2 separate regions of the Homo sapiens genome follow, and region 1 is reported to be linked to region 2. Evidence: microRNA targets listed by miRTarBase, many of them from high-throughput screens and not tested one by one. Region 2 holds a microRNA gene; the other region holds the end of a gene's coding sequence.

Region 1 (3,000 bases), not on the chromosome of region 2:
TGAAAAATCTCTACAAAATGTCTTTGAAAAGCAAAACGAGACTGCCTCTTAACAATTCGTATCCTCATGAAAGACGTGGGCTGTAAAAATAAAGCAGTGTGTTTAGCACAAACTAGAAGATATCTGCATCATTTTTTTCACAGTTATTTCCATCTACAGTCTGAAAGAGGTAGATTTTTCTGCAACACCTGAGAATTGAATTGTGATAACCAGGTGTAATAAAGGCAGTTGCATACATAACTGAAAAATACTGGTCTCAAGACCAAGAAATGTACTCCTAACAAGTCTGAGGATGAAATGGTCCATATTACCCAAGACCCAAGTTTTCTCTACACCTTGGAGTCCACCGCCAATATAAATAATACACATCACGATTCCATGATGGTGCAACAATTGCAATTTAAGTGAATTCAACATTTAAACCTTTTCTGGGCCAGCCTAGTAGCATTACAGTGTTCTAGAATATGGTAGATACGGGGTGCGCTACAAAGCCACAACACTGGGCTGGTGAGGTGATCACTGTAGGAAGATGTCCTTCTCAGGGGGTCCCATTTGTTTTTATTCACAGGGTAATGGGAGGAAGGGTTCTGAAAGGACAACAAATGCATCCCAGACAGAATCCATATCCTTTCAACACTATAATAGCATCTAGCTAAAAATACAAAGTAAGCCAAAAGCAGCAGGCCAAGTACTGTTAATCACATTGCTTTAAAGCCCTTGGAAGTATGCAACAGGCCCAAGATTTACAATCTTCCACACAGGACAAGCACCACAAAGAAACGTGGTGGGCTACACAAATGGCTTAATAAAATGTTAAGAGCTGTACATCCAGCAGAGTTCTTGTGAAATAATGTGATCATTAGTACTAATTTTAAGGTGGATTATATTTCTGATCTATACCTGCATTCCCCCCCACCACCAGGGAAATGAGTCTAGTATTTTAGTAGCAGAACAGGGTGTACTCCTAAGAGGCTGTTGGAGGGTGGTGTTTTTTGCTTCTGACTCATTTTGATGGTAATTAGATAATCTACTTTGTGGATTTATTTTCCTCCACTGTGGCCCCTTGAATTAACATGACTGATAGTGGAGGCTTAGATACAACCCTCCTCCACTCCAGGCGGTTTCCTATCTATCTATCTGTTGGACAATTTTCAATTCTTTCAACCCAGTTTCGACCATGAATGTGACAGGACTTTACAAATAACACTTGTAACAAAGAGAAAACCCTTTTAACTGGACAAAACAGAGTTTATTCAGTCCAGTAAGCAATTTAACAAGTGTCAGTCTGATAGTTTTGCTCAGTGGAATGTGCTAACATCAGTTCTAGTAGAACCTTTTATTTCATAAAGCATTTCAATGCAAATTATACCAGGGACAAAGTCAAAACTTCCATCAGTGCAGCCTGATTAATCATCTGCATAACTGCGCCACATTCAACATTGAAACAAAGAACTAATTCAAAAGTTATGTGCTTAATTTCAAATTTTCCCCCAGTCCAAGTGTAGAGACCTTGATAATACTGTGGCTTTTCTTTTTTCTTCTTAAAAAAGAGATGGTAACTAAGAAGGGGGTGAGAAAACAGACTGAACACGTAAGTAACAGATCATGACTAACACTCTGCCAAGTCTTCCCAAAGTAAAAATGTTGGTGCCAGTGTTTGTTTTGGAAATGAAAATCAATTTCGGTTGGTACTGATCCATAATGAAAATTCCCTTTTGAAAAACCTGGAGTACTTTGCTGGTGGAATTTTTGTAGTAACTTTCAAGTAGCCAGAAGGTATTGGAGAAACTTCTGCCTAGTGAAAGTGACACGTGAATTGACCGTCCTTGTCTTTGACAAGGGACTTCATTGAACGGCAAACATGAACACCAGTTTTCAAAGAATAAGTGGCCTTCTATGGGAAGTGGAGAATATGTACTGAAATCCCAAATCAGAATCAAACACAAACCGCCATCCTCTACGGGAGCCCCTCATGGTCCAAATCCCACACCTGAAACCAAAGCAGGATGACTGTTCAGTCACGTAAACACTAAGCTTATTTGTCTAGTGATTTGCCTCTATGTACTATTTTGTCCACAAGTGACATCTTTATATACATATTCTGCCGAAACTTAGGATTCTAGGCATGTGGCCATCTCAATTTGTCCCGAGATATAAATGTTTTCAAAAAGCTAATTTCAATCAAATATGCTTCTGACCCAACACTAGGAGTTTTATTTTTACTTGGCATTTAAATGGGTTATTAGACAAAACTAATCGCCTTGGTATTTTGTTTTTCTGAATAATATTATGGGGGGGGGGGCTAAGACGTTTAAATTAATATTGTTTTCACATCAAGGAACCATCGTCAGAACAAAGTTCCCTTGTAATGGTCGGCCCTGTCAGTGAAATTTTCATTAGGATGATAATGTGCAAGGAGCAGGGAGAGAAAGGACAAGGCAATGAACACATGCATTCCAGTGGAGGGAGAACGAGGCTGATGTGCAACACAGCTGAGGAAAATTTATAGATTAAACTATTCAAAACTGCTAAGCAGCCTCCTGTACCACATAAGTCCAGTAGTTCTAAGAAAATACAGATATGGTAGAAAAAGTAAGAAAATTTTCACCACAAAACCAATAGTTAACTACTAACAGAGAAAGTTATACACAAAATATATCTCTCAATACAGTGATCACACCTCATCTTAGTCAACCGACTCGATGGCCGGAGCAGAGCCTGTGGACGGGGGCTTTTGCACAGCGCTTCTCTGACTCTTGGGCTCAGCCTCCAGGTGCGCTCCCAGGGCTCTTTTCGAGGAAGTGTTCAGCTCCTTGTGAGAATCCAGGGCAGTACAGGGCTGCATCACAGGTGTTGCTAAATCCCTGTTCGCCGCTTTGATGGCCGCTTTGATGGATACCTGCTCTTTCAGGACTTCCACCTTCTCATTGAGCTCATTCCTTTCTGTCTGAAGAGCCCTGCACAGCTTCTCTAACCGTTCCAGTTTTATTTGAAGGGCCT
Region 2 (4,928 bases):
AGCTGATGGACGACCTCGATAAGGTGCTGCGGCCCCGGGCTGCGGGGTCCGGGGGTCCAGGTCGGGGCGGGCGGAGGGCCACCCGGCCTCGCTCGGGTTGCTGTGACGACTCAGCCCTGGCACGAAGCCCAGCCCGCGGCCTGCTGGGTGAGGACCCTTGGGGGACGGGGCCTGCCCAGTGCCCTTTCCGGGGCTCACTGGGTGAGGCCCCCATGGGTAAGGGGGGAGGGGGAGGGAGATGTAAGCAGGGGTGCCGGGAGGGGGCGGGTATGTGGGGTGACAGGGGGCCTCAGGTGGGGTTGGACACTGTCTCTTGGGTAAAGACTTCCATAGGGGGCCGGGCGCGGTGGCTCACGCCTGTAATCCCAGCACTTTGGGAGGCTGAGGCGGGCGGATCACCTGAGGTCAGGAGTTTGAGACCAGCCTGGCCAACATGGTGAAAGCCCATCTCTATTAAAAATACAAAAATTAGCCGGGCATATGGCATGCCTGTAGTCCCAGCTACTTGGGAGACTGAGGCAGGAGAATCGCTTGAGCCTGGGAGGTGGAGGTTGCGGTGAGCCAAGATTGCACCACTGTACTCCAGCCTGGGCAACAGAGCGAGACTCCGTCTCAGAAATAAGACAAAAAAAAAAAAAAAAGACTTCCATAGGGATGTGGGGTGCAGTGGGATGAGGGGTCTTTCTTCTGTGGCTTCATGGATAGGAACCTTTGGGAGTATGTTTGGGGTGAGGCGTTGCCAGTAGGGGCTGACCCAGTGCTGCTCCCCACTTGCCTGCTGGGCAAAGCATCCTCCCTCATAGAGGGGTCCCCCCATAGGGGTGCTGCAGAGGGCCGAGGGGTCTTGGGCAGGACTGACTCCTCCTGTGTTCCCCCCACAGCCTGCTGGACCGGGTGTTGTGGAGGGCAGGGGCTTCTGGTGGGCACTGACCTGCAATCTCTGTCCCCAGGCTCTCGGCTGAGCAAAATCTATTCCCAGTCCACCCTGTCACTGTCCACTGTGGCCAACGAGGCCCACAATAACCTCGGGGTGAAGAGGCCCACGTCTCGGTGAGTTTAGCCCGCACAGGCGGGGTTCGTATGCCGGGTGGCTTCCCAGAGCCTGGGAGGTGTGTGGGCATCTGGGTGAACCTAGAGGGCGGTATGGCTCGAGTTTATGGATACGCCATGAAGAGATGGAGGGACGCGTGTGGGCACGTGTGCATGGGGCATAGTCTGTACCTGGCAGACAGGACTCAAGCATGTGCCTCAGTGCACTTGAGTGCCAGGTGTTCCTGTGGGAGGAGGACAGCACGGGGCACTGCATGGACTTGGGAGGGTGTGCAGTGTATACCGCCTCCTCTGCAGTGTGTGTGGCCCGCCTTTTTTTTTTTTTTTTTTTTTTTTGTTTTTTTGAGAGGGAGTCTTGCTGTGTCGCCCAGGCTGGAGTGCAGTGGCGCAATCTTGGCTCACGGCAACCTCCGCCCCCTGGGTGCAAGTGATTCTCGTGCCTCAGCCTCCTGAGTAGCTGGGGTTACCCGTGCCTGTAGAGACGGTGTTTCACCATGTTGGCCAGGCTGGCCTCGAACTCCCGACCTCAAGTGATCTGCCCGCTTTGGCCTCCCGAAGTGCTGGGATTACAGGCATGAGCCACGATGCCCAGCCGTGGCCCTTATTTTCCTTGGCCCCTCTGCACATAGGGAAGCTTCCCATCTCTGACCCCACCTCCATCCCATCCTGACCCCACCTCCATCCCATCCTTCTCCCACTGCAGGGCTCCCTCCCCGTCAGGTCTCATGTCCCCAAGCCGCCTGCCTGGAAGCCGCGAACGGGACTGGGAAAATGGCAGCAATGCCTCCTCCCCAGCGTCAGTGCCCGAGTACACAGGTAAGCAGGGGCTCTGGGTGATGTGAGGAGCAACAGGCACCCTCCTCCACAGCCCCTGCTCATTCCTGCTGCCCCCCACCCCCTCCCACTGCCTCACCCTCTAGGTCCACGGCTGTACAAAGAACCCAGCGCCAAGTCCAACAAGTTCATCATCCACAATGCCCTATCACACTGCTGCCTGGCGGGCAAGGTGAACGAACCGCAGAAGAATCGCATTCTGGAGGTGAGCCCGCCCACACGTGGGAGTTGGGGGCTGGTGGGTGGGTGGGTGGCCTGACTTGGCCAGCTGACCATTTCCAGCACTCCTGCCCAGGAAATTGAGAAAAGCAAGGCCAACCACTTCCTGATCCTCTTTCGCGACTCGAGCTGCCAGTTCCGGGCGCTCTACACGCTGTCGGGGGAGACAGAGGAGCTGTCGCGGCTGGCAGGGTATGGGCCCCGGACCGTCACGCCCGCCATGGTGGAAGGCATCTACAAGTACAACTCGGACCGCAAGCGCTTCACCCAGATCCCCGCCAAGACCATGTCCATGAGCGTCGATGCCTTCACCATCCAGGGACACCTCTGGCAGGGCAAGAAACCCACCACTCCCAAGAAGGGCGGCGGCACCCCCAAATAGCCCCACCCGGGCGGTCCACGGGCCGGGCCCTGTGTGCTGCGGCCGCCATCCCCTGGAGGACAGTCAGTCGGTATTCCTGGGTCCTGTCTGTCCCCAACCGTGTCTGGGTGGGGCTGGAGTCTCCACCCTCTGACTTTGAGTCCAGTCCTGCTGTGGGGGCTGAGCTGGGAGGTTCAGGGACTCAGGGCTCAGCTCAGTCCCCTTGTCTGTCCTCCCCCACTTCTTGAATAAAATAATTTAAAGAGAAGTTGAACCTTGTCCCCCCCTCCGAGGCTGGCCGGGGTCCCACACTCCCTGGCTGTGTTTTTAGTCTCCTGTTCTTTCTCAAACCAACTCCTGTCTTCAACCCCCATAATCCCCTAATGCAGCTTCAGCCAGGGCACTCCCAGCCCCCAGCCAGGGCTGTTTCGAAGCTGCCTCTGAACTGATCTCTCAGGCTCGAGGTGTCCCACTGGCCCTTCCTGTGGCCTTGGCCACCCCCGCTTGCTGGATTCTCCTGGTCTGTGTGGCTGTTGTTACTGGCCCTAACCAGCGTTTGGCATGGGGCCAACTTCTAACTTGATCTTGTCTCCCCTGGCCAGCCTGGTGTTTCCAGGCCTGGCATCTACCTCTGGGCCAGTGATTCCAGGTTTCTCTGAGATCTGTGTTTGACAATCCAGTTGCCCCCTGCCATTGCCTGGGTGTCTCTCTCAGATGCAAGGCCTGCCCTGCAACCCAGGCTGGCACTGGCTTCCCAGCTGCCGCCCAGTTCTACACAGCTCAGCCCTCCCCTCCTGTCTCACTCGCTTCTCTCCAGCCCTGTCACCTCCCTGCAAAGTCCAAGCCAATGGCCTGGGCCTCCCCATGTCCCCAGCTGCCTCCTGCCCACACAGCAGCCTGTGTGACCCGTTCGAAGCACAAATCTGATTATATCCCTTGATACTTAAAACCCCTTAATAGCCTACAGCCCGCTAATGGCTTCCCAGGCTTAGGACTAAGGACCACGCCCTGGTCCTGGGCCGTGCACAAGGTCTGGCGCCTGGCCCCCGTCCAGGCACAGAAACGCGTTACTAATCAGTTCCCAGAGCTGGGCCAGAGCCTGCCTGACTCCAAGACTTGAGGGCAAGGGCCAGTCCCTAGTGGGGAACAGACAGTGGGTGCCACCCCAGGGAGGCGGCAGCTGCCTGGGGCCACAGAAGGGCTCTGAGAGGCAGGGGCTGGCGAGACCTGGGCAGCCAGGGGCTGGATTGCCCTTCCCAGGCTACAGAGGCTCAAGGAAGTTTCCGGGCAGGACCCACTCCAAGGCCCCAGGCAGCGGAGGGACTGGCCTCTCGAGTCCAGAACTGGCTCTGCGGGGTGAGGCCGGGCAGTATCTGGCCTGGGGCCCAGCCGCCCCACCTCCCACAGCAGCCAATCCCGGCCCAGGGCCAGGCACTCCTGAGCTGTACTCCCTCGGGCACCTGGGCAGCAGGAAGGAGGCTCAGACCATGATGTACAAACGTAGCTGTATTGGGGAGGGGGTGGGGAGGGGGGATGGGGGAGGGACGGGTCAGTCTTCCTTCAGGCTCCCAAACACTGCGGCTGGCACGCTCTGCTGCTCCAGCCGAACCTCTGTGGGGAAGGCGGGAGCCAGTCACCCTCCTGGCGTTGGCCTGTCCCCCGAGGCCCACCCTGGTAATGCCACCGTCCCCGCCCCAGCCGGGCCCTCACCGTTGGGCTCCAGGTCCATCTCGTCCTCGTCCTCGTCCTCGCCCAGCTGGATCTCCTCGGGGTTGACCTGCTGTGCCAGCTCTGCCAGCTCCTCCCGGGAGGCGTCACTCCTAGGGACGGGCCATGCTGCCTCAGTTCCCCACCCCGGGCCCCCTTGGGACCTGTCCCAGTCCTGTCCCGTCCAAGGATCCGCCCTCACCTCACGAACAGGATCTTGCTCTGGGCGCGCAAGGGCTGGTCACGCTCCGCCTCAGCCGCCAGCTGCTCTGCCCGCTGTTCCAGCAGCTTCATGTCGTCCATGCCACTCTGCCCAGGGGCCAGGTCAGACACTAGGGGGTGGGAGCAGGGGGTCAGCGCCACGGGGGCCCCTCCCACACATCGGACGTTGCACTATCCCAGTCCCCCAGGTGATGGCCCAGCCCTCAAGGAGATTGCCATCAGGATCCGAGGCTCCCAGACCCGGAAAGCCCAGGTCAGGCCGGGCTGAGATGCCCTGGATCAGGAACTCAGCCAGCTGGGACGGCTCACCGGTGCCCGTGGCACTGCCCGAGACCTTGAGCATCTGCGAGGCCATGAAGTTGACCTGCGTGTTGTACGTGGCCTGCACGCTGCGCCGGATACGCAGCATTTCCTTGATGGTGTCCTCATTGCCATGCCGGACCTCAAAGTCCTTCCACGTCTGCCAGAACGCGCCGGTCGTCTGCGTGGGGGGCAGGGCAGGGGTGGGTGTGTGTGCCCGTGAGCTGGCTGACTC

What was found. Region 2 holds the annotated microRNA hsa-miR-6792-3p (CUCCUCCACAGCCCCUGCUCAU, at 1,908-1,929, shown strand). A microRNA usually pairs through its seed, bases 2 to 8, with sites in the 3' UTR of a target mRNA and lowers its output. Matches are read on the target gene's strand: a 7mer-m8 pairs with bases 2 to 8, a 7mer-A1 pairs with bases 2 to 7 and ends in A, and an 8mer does both.
Region 1: the mRNA of TXLNG is a reported target of hsa-miR-6792-3p. Seed matches in the 3' UTR shown: 7mer-m8 at 1,105-1,111 and 8mer at 1,046-1,053.

Annotation. Positions count from the first base shown.
Region 1 is chrX:16,841,453-16,844,452 of GRCh38, reverse strand. It overlaps TXLNG (taxilin gamma), which reads right to left. Exons shown (of 10, transcript NM_018360.3): 10 at 1-3,000. The coding sequence ends at 2,687. RBBP7 (RB binding protein 7, chromatin remodeling factor) reads left to right here. Exons shown (of 12, transcript NM_002893.4): 12 at 1-112. Among named protein-coding and RNA genes, the nearest start is that of RBBP7, 27 kb to the left of the region's middle.
Region 2 is chr19:7,615,573-7,620,500 of GRCh38, forward strand. MIR6792 (microRNA 6792) reads left to right here and starts at 1,867; the gene lies at 1,867-1,933. CAMSAP3 (calmodulin regulated spectrin associated protein family member 3) reads left to right here. Exons shown (of 17, transcript NM_020902.2): 13 at 1-147; 14 at 951-1,050; 15 at 1,754-1,866; 16 at 1,971-2,089; 17 at 2,180-2,732. The coding sequence ends at 2,485. It overlaps XAB2 (XPA binding protein 2), which reads right to left. Exons shown (of 19, transcript NM_020196.3): 16 at 4,703-4,874; 17 at 4,374-4,503; 18 at 4,175-4,284; 19 at 3,953-4,075. The coding sequence ends at 4,014.